2 separate regions of the Homo sapiens genome follow, and region 1 is linked to region 2. Evidence: fine-mapped expression QTL. A gene starts in region 2. The other region holds a variant in brackets. All regions are shown on one strand. Distances are between the middles of the regions.

The links. PIP is the estimated chance that this variant, and not a neighbour inherited with it, causes the effect.
Region 1: its variant is fine-mapped to the expression of FBXO10 in whole blood (TOPMed, PIP 0.91).

Annotation. Positions count from the first base shown.
Region 1 is chr9:37,513,192-37,516,103 of GRCh38, forward strand. It overlaps FBXO10 (F-box protein 10), which reads right to left. Exons shown (of 11, transcript NM_012166.3): 10 at 2,713-2,894. Among named protein-coding and RNA genes, the nearest start is that of POLR1E, 29 kb to the left of the region's middle. RefSeq lists an enhancer at 2,207-2,708. The variant A/G (reference allele first, on the strand shown) is at 1,592.
Region 2 is chr9:37,575,005-37,577,916 of GRCh38, forward strand. FBXO10 (F-box protein 10) reads right to left here and starts at 1,376. Exons shown (of 11, transcript NM_012166.3): 1 at 1,207-1,376. RefSeq lists a silencer at 1,030-1,409.

The DNA of each region.
Region 1 (2,912 bases), 62 kb before region 2:
TCTCATTATGTTGCCCAAGCCGGTCTTAAACTCCTGGGCTCAAGTGATCCTCCTGCCTCAGCTTCCCAAGTAGCTGGGATTATAGGTGTGTGCCACGGTGCCAGCTTTTCCTCTTTCATTTCTTTTCAGCTCTATGACCACAAATGTTTATAGAAGCTTTATTCATAATCACCAAAAACTAGAAACTACCTAAATACGCTTCAGCTGATGAGTGAATAAACTGTGCAGTACACCCATACAGGGGAAGACTACTCAGCAATTGAAAGGAATGAACGCCTTACATGCAACACCATGAATGAATCTCCAGCATGTTAGGCTAAGTGAAAGAAGCCAGACTCAAAAGACTACATACTGCAGGATTTCTGGGTTTTTTTTGTTTTTACTTTTATTTTTTAATATATATATATATTTTTTCCGAGACGGAGTCTTGCTCTGTTACCCAGGCTGGAGTGCAGTAGTGTGATCTGGGTTCACTGCAACCTCTTCCTCCCAGGTTCGAGTGATCCTCCTGGCTCAGCCTCCCGAGTAGCTGGGACTACAGTTGCGTGCCATGATGCCCAGCTAATTTTTGTATTTTTAGTAGAGATGGGGTTTCACCATGTTGGCCAGGCTGGTCTCGAAATCCCGACCTCAGGTGATCCACCCACCTCGGCCTCCCAAAGTGCTGGGATTACAGGCGTGAGCCACCGCACCCGGCCACGATTTCTTTTATATGACATTTGGGAAAATGCAAATCTATGGGGGATAGAAGTTGGTGGGTTTCCAGTCACCCAAACTCTTGTAGAGAGCATGGAGGGCCAGGGAAAATAAAATGATAGTGAAGCTGTGGTCAGAGTTTTCTGATGCTTGAGTTACAAGGAACCAACTTTACACACTAAGTCTCCATTTGCTTAAGGCAACACATTGTCTTATATGTATTTTTATGATAATGATGTTACAATGAAAGGACTGGAAAGGTGTGGACGGAATCAGAGGTTGGCTACTAGCATGTGAATAAAAAGGCCTAAGCTATGTTGGGAGGACTGTATGTATTTGAGTTTGGCAGCAGGGGAGCACTACTGAAAAGGAGTGATGAAATGAGAGGCTGGAAAAGACAATTAGGACCTCAGGGTACACAGCGGACAATACCAGAGCTGGCATTGGCAAAGTCCGGGCTGTATCCTGTACCCTGGGGTCTCCAAAGGGAAGGAGGAGGTGGATCCCAGGGAGTCCACAATATAATCTGCTGGGATATTGGAAGAAAATACTAGAATTTTGGTTTTTTTTAACTGTATACTTTAAAATTTTCTATTTTGGGGATAGTTTATAATGTAAATAATATACTGCTAGAATACACATATATAAGTTATAAATAGGTATACCGGTGAGGCGCGGTGGCTCACACCTGTAATCTCAATACTTTGGGAGGCCAAGGCGGGTGGATCACCTGAGGTCAGGAGTTCGAGACCAGCCTGGTCAACATGGCGAAACTGTCTCTACTAAAAACACAAAAATCAGCCGGGAGTGGTGGTGGGCGCCTGTAATCCCAGCTGCTCAGGAGGCTGAGGCAGGAGGATCGCTTGAATCTGGGAGGAAGAGGTTGCAGTGAGCC[A/G]AGATCGCACCACTGCACTGCAGCCTGGGCAACAGAGTGAGACTTGGTCTCTAAATAAATAAATAAATAATTAGGTATACCTACATCGGGGGGTTTCTTCAAAGAATATTTTTTCCCGAGAGTGTGTGTAATACAAAAAGTATGGAGATCATTACAACAGAACATGAAGATCCATGAGAGGTTTTAAACCATGGATGTGATGTGACTGACCAGAGCTCTCACTTAGAAAGATTAACCTGGCAGGATGCATGGGACAACCTCCAGAGTGGAGCAGGGGGTGGCCACGGGCAGGGAGACTGGCAGGAGGCTGCTGCAGGGGGACAGGTGACATTGGCGGTGCAGGAGTGATACCAACTACAGCAAATATCAGTATGATTTTACAACCAGAATGTGAAAGCGAAAGCACGGACCAATCAGAACACAGCCCAAGCAGAAGCAACTGGAACAGCTGTGCATTGCAGTAACACAGGCGGTACAGGTTAGGGTGAGCGGTGCTGAGACCTGAATTAGGATGGGGGCAGTTGGGGAAGAGGAGGTGCTGGAAAAAGGAACATTTTAGAAGCAGAATCAACAAGACCTGGTGACTGACTGACTGGACATCTTCGGATTAGGGAGAAAAAGGCAGCAGAAGTTTTGTTGTCAGAACACTGAGTGGATGGTGATGTCGCTGAAATGGAGAACGTGAAAGGACAGACAGGTTTGAGGAAGATGGGTGGCGGCAATTGTGATACATTGAGGCAGAGTGACTAAAGGACAGCAGCAGCATCAACTAACATTTTTACAGCCCCTCAGAGATTCAGCCAGATAGTGTGATCTTATTAAATGGATTTTACTAAGGCTCGAAGATGTGAAGTAAGTTGCCCAAGGTCACACAGCCAGTAACCTGCAGAGCTGAGATCTGAAACCACATACCCCTGACTCTTAAAAAGCTTGTTCCCTCCTGGGGAGTCCTCAGCCCGGGCCTGACATAGAGCCAGGCACAGGCCTTTTTCTGACTGGAGTCGACAGCTGGCAGGGTTGCAGGGAGCCCGGGCAGCCACAATCCCTGGGTGTGGGCCTGGCTTCTTCAGGGAGCTTACTGTGGCTCTAGAGGACTCGTTCAGGCAACCCCAAGCACTCACTTTTTCTTGAAGACCAGGAACTTGTTGTTTTGCATGATGCATTCTCGGTTGTTTGAGATCTGCTGAAAGATGGTCTTACTGGTTTTGCCCTGGAAGATGATGTTTTCCTGCACCAGGGCCTTGGCACGGCCCCGCACGGCGATGCCGTAGGCCCGGAACGAGTGGATCCGGTTCTTTATTACCTGGGAGAGGCAGCCAGA
Region 2 (2,912 bases):
GTTGGGTCCTGAGCAAAATCAAAGTCCTGTCGTCCTTCTGGGTCCAGTCTCTCCATTTGCAAAGGAGACAGCTGGATTAGATGGTTTCCCAGGCATCCTCCAGCTCTGACAGTCAATCACCGTACTGTGTTTTTTTTTTCGGTGGCTACACATGCCTGGCACTTTTCTCTCCCCTCAGAGGGAATCTGATACCAATCTGCTCAAGTAAATTGATGTTCCCATCCAGCCTGACTCATATGGTAGGAACAACAGGTTCATATGCCAATTGTAAAAGAGAAGGCAAAGGGGGCCCAGAATGAGAAAAAGAAAAGGTCTTACAAACCAAAACGGCAGTTTTCAGGACTAAAAATATAGAAACAAATGTGATTATTCTGCTGAAAAAGCCCTTCACGTGGGGCAATCTCTAGCTTACTAATAATGCTTATATTAACAGCATTATCTACTGAGGCTTTTGTGCCAGACACTGTGTGCTAAACCCTTTACAATTAATCCTCCCAGCAACCCATGAGCTTATTACCTCCTTTTCACAGATGAGGAATCAATCTGGCTGAAGGTCACAAAGCCAGTAAGTGGCAGAACTGTGATCTGAACCAGAGCTAACTGACTCCAGAGTTCTGGCTCCTCAAATGACTTTCCCCTCTGTTCTTCACTGTAGTCCTAAGAGCGAGGCAGGACAGGGGTTATCACTTTTTGTTTAAAGATGAAAAAACCGTCTGAGAGGCTTGAGATTTGCATAAAATACACAGTGGGTGCCCAGCCCCATATTTGCCCCTTGAGATTTGCATAAAATACACAGTGGGTGCCCAGCCCCATATTTGCCCCTGCGTTCCTAGGTGAAGGCTCTTCCCATCCCAAGAGTCAGCTTCTTCTTCTTCGACTTTACTTACACACTCGAAAAATCTCAGGGCTGGAGGCACCGCGGAGATACATGCTCCGCGTCCGGTAGTTTTACGGGAGGGTAAACCAAGGCATAGCTCTCCGTCGGCGCGCCTGAGCCTCCGGATGCCGGGGGACCGCGGAGCCGCGGGCGGCCTGAGGGTACGCCTCATGGTCCTGCCAGACCCCTGATGCCCGAAGCCCGACCAGACGCTCAGCCTCGGCCAGGACTGAGCGGCGCCTCCTGGGTCGGTCGCCTGGGGAAGCGCCCCGGGTCCCCTCCCCCGGCCGCCCAAGTTCGCCCGCAGCCTCTGCGCACCGGCCGCTTACCTCACAGGGCGCTCGCCCACCGCGGAGTCCGGGCCGCGGCCGCCGGTGCCCTGGAAGCCACCCGCCGCCCCCGCTGGAGCCGCAGCAGCCGGTAGGATTGCGGCGTGCGGCCAGCCCCGCCCGGGGGCGGACAGCTGCCTGGGGATCGTGCGGAGCCGCCGCCGTCATGTGACGCGCAAGGCGGCGAAGGATGCCGGGAGCAGCTGGCTGGCCGGGGCTGGGCTTCCCGACCACCGCGCATAAAAGCTGTATCTGCAGGAGGGGCACCGGGAGGCGGGAGGAAGGCAGACGAGGAGGGGGCGCGTGGGGCTTCGGGTACTGCAAAGGCGAGCTTGCGGAAGGACGATTCAGGCTCGTGTTGCGTGGCCCCAGAAGGGGCAGAAATAGAACCAGTGGGTGGAAACTGCAGGGAGGCATGCTAAGGCCAATACAGTGTAAATAAGATTCCTGCGAGCACCAGTTATCTAACAGTATAAGGAGCAGTTTCCTGGGGTGCTAGGCACCCTGTAGATGAGCATGTAGGGTCTGGGTTCATTCACTGAACAAACTGACCATTGGCTACCTGCCAGACAATGTACTAGGAGTACATATTAAATTAGTTGTATGTATGGCGCTTAGCATAATGCCTGCCACAAAGTAAATGCTGTATGTTTGTTGCTGCTGGTGCCGTTACTATTATGGGCACAAAAGTGAACAAAGCAGATATGGTTCCTCTTCTCCTGAAGTTAATTCTGTAGTGGAGAAGGTAGACGGTAATCAAGTGTCATTTAAACCAATATGTGTTTAAAATTGTAGAAAATGCACGGAAGGAGCTGTAATTTAAAAATAGGGGCCAGGTGTTCATGCCTGTAATCCCAGCGCTTTTGCAGGCCGAGGCTGGAGGAAAGATCACTTGAGCTCAGGAGTTCGAGGTTAACAGTGAGCCATGATTGTGCCACTGCACTCCAGCCTGGGTGACAGGGCGAGACTCTTGTTTCAAAAATAAAACTAAATAAATTAGGGACCAAGGAAGGGTAGTCAAGGAAGACCTCTCAGAGTAAGATAAAGAGTTAGCCAAATGGAAGAGGGGCAGGGTAAGCCCTGTGAAAACTCTTGGACCAGGTGGGTTGGGTTGGAGGAGAAAAGATCGCTCTTTGTGGAAATGGAAAACGTCTAGCTTGTCTGAAGCTTTTTAACGGGAAGAACAATATAAGTGAGGTCAGAAAGGTAGGTAGGGGCCAGATCACGCAGCACTTAATAGGCCATGATAAGGATTTTAAAATTGTACGTAACAGGAAGCCATCGAAGGGGTGGAGGATTTGATACCTTTTAAAGCAGTATGTCAGCTACTATGTGAAGACAGGAGTTAAGGGTGGAAGCAGAGATTGGTAGCTTAACCTATTAACTGGGCCCGTGGAGGTGCTATTTATTGAAATGGGAACTATTGTAAGGGGAATATATTTGGAAGCGGGGGGAGATCAAGAACTCCCATTTGAACTTGTTAAATTTGACACTGCCAGTTAGAATGACTATTAACAAAAAGACAAAAAAATAACAAATGCTGGTGAGGACATGGAGAAAAGGGAACTCTCATACACTGAATTATACAGCCAGTATAGAAAAATGCATGGAGGTTTCTCAAAAAAGTAAAACTAGAACTGCCATATGATCCAGCAGTCCCACTGCTGGATATTTATCCAGGAATGGAAATCAGTATGTCAAAGGTA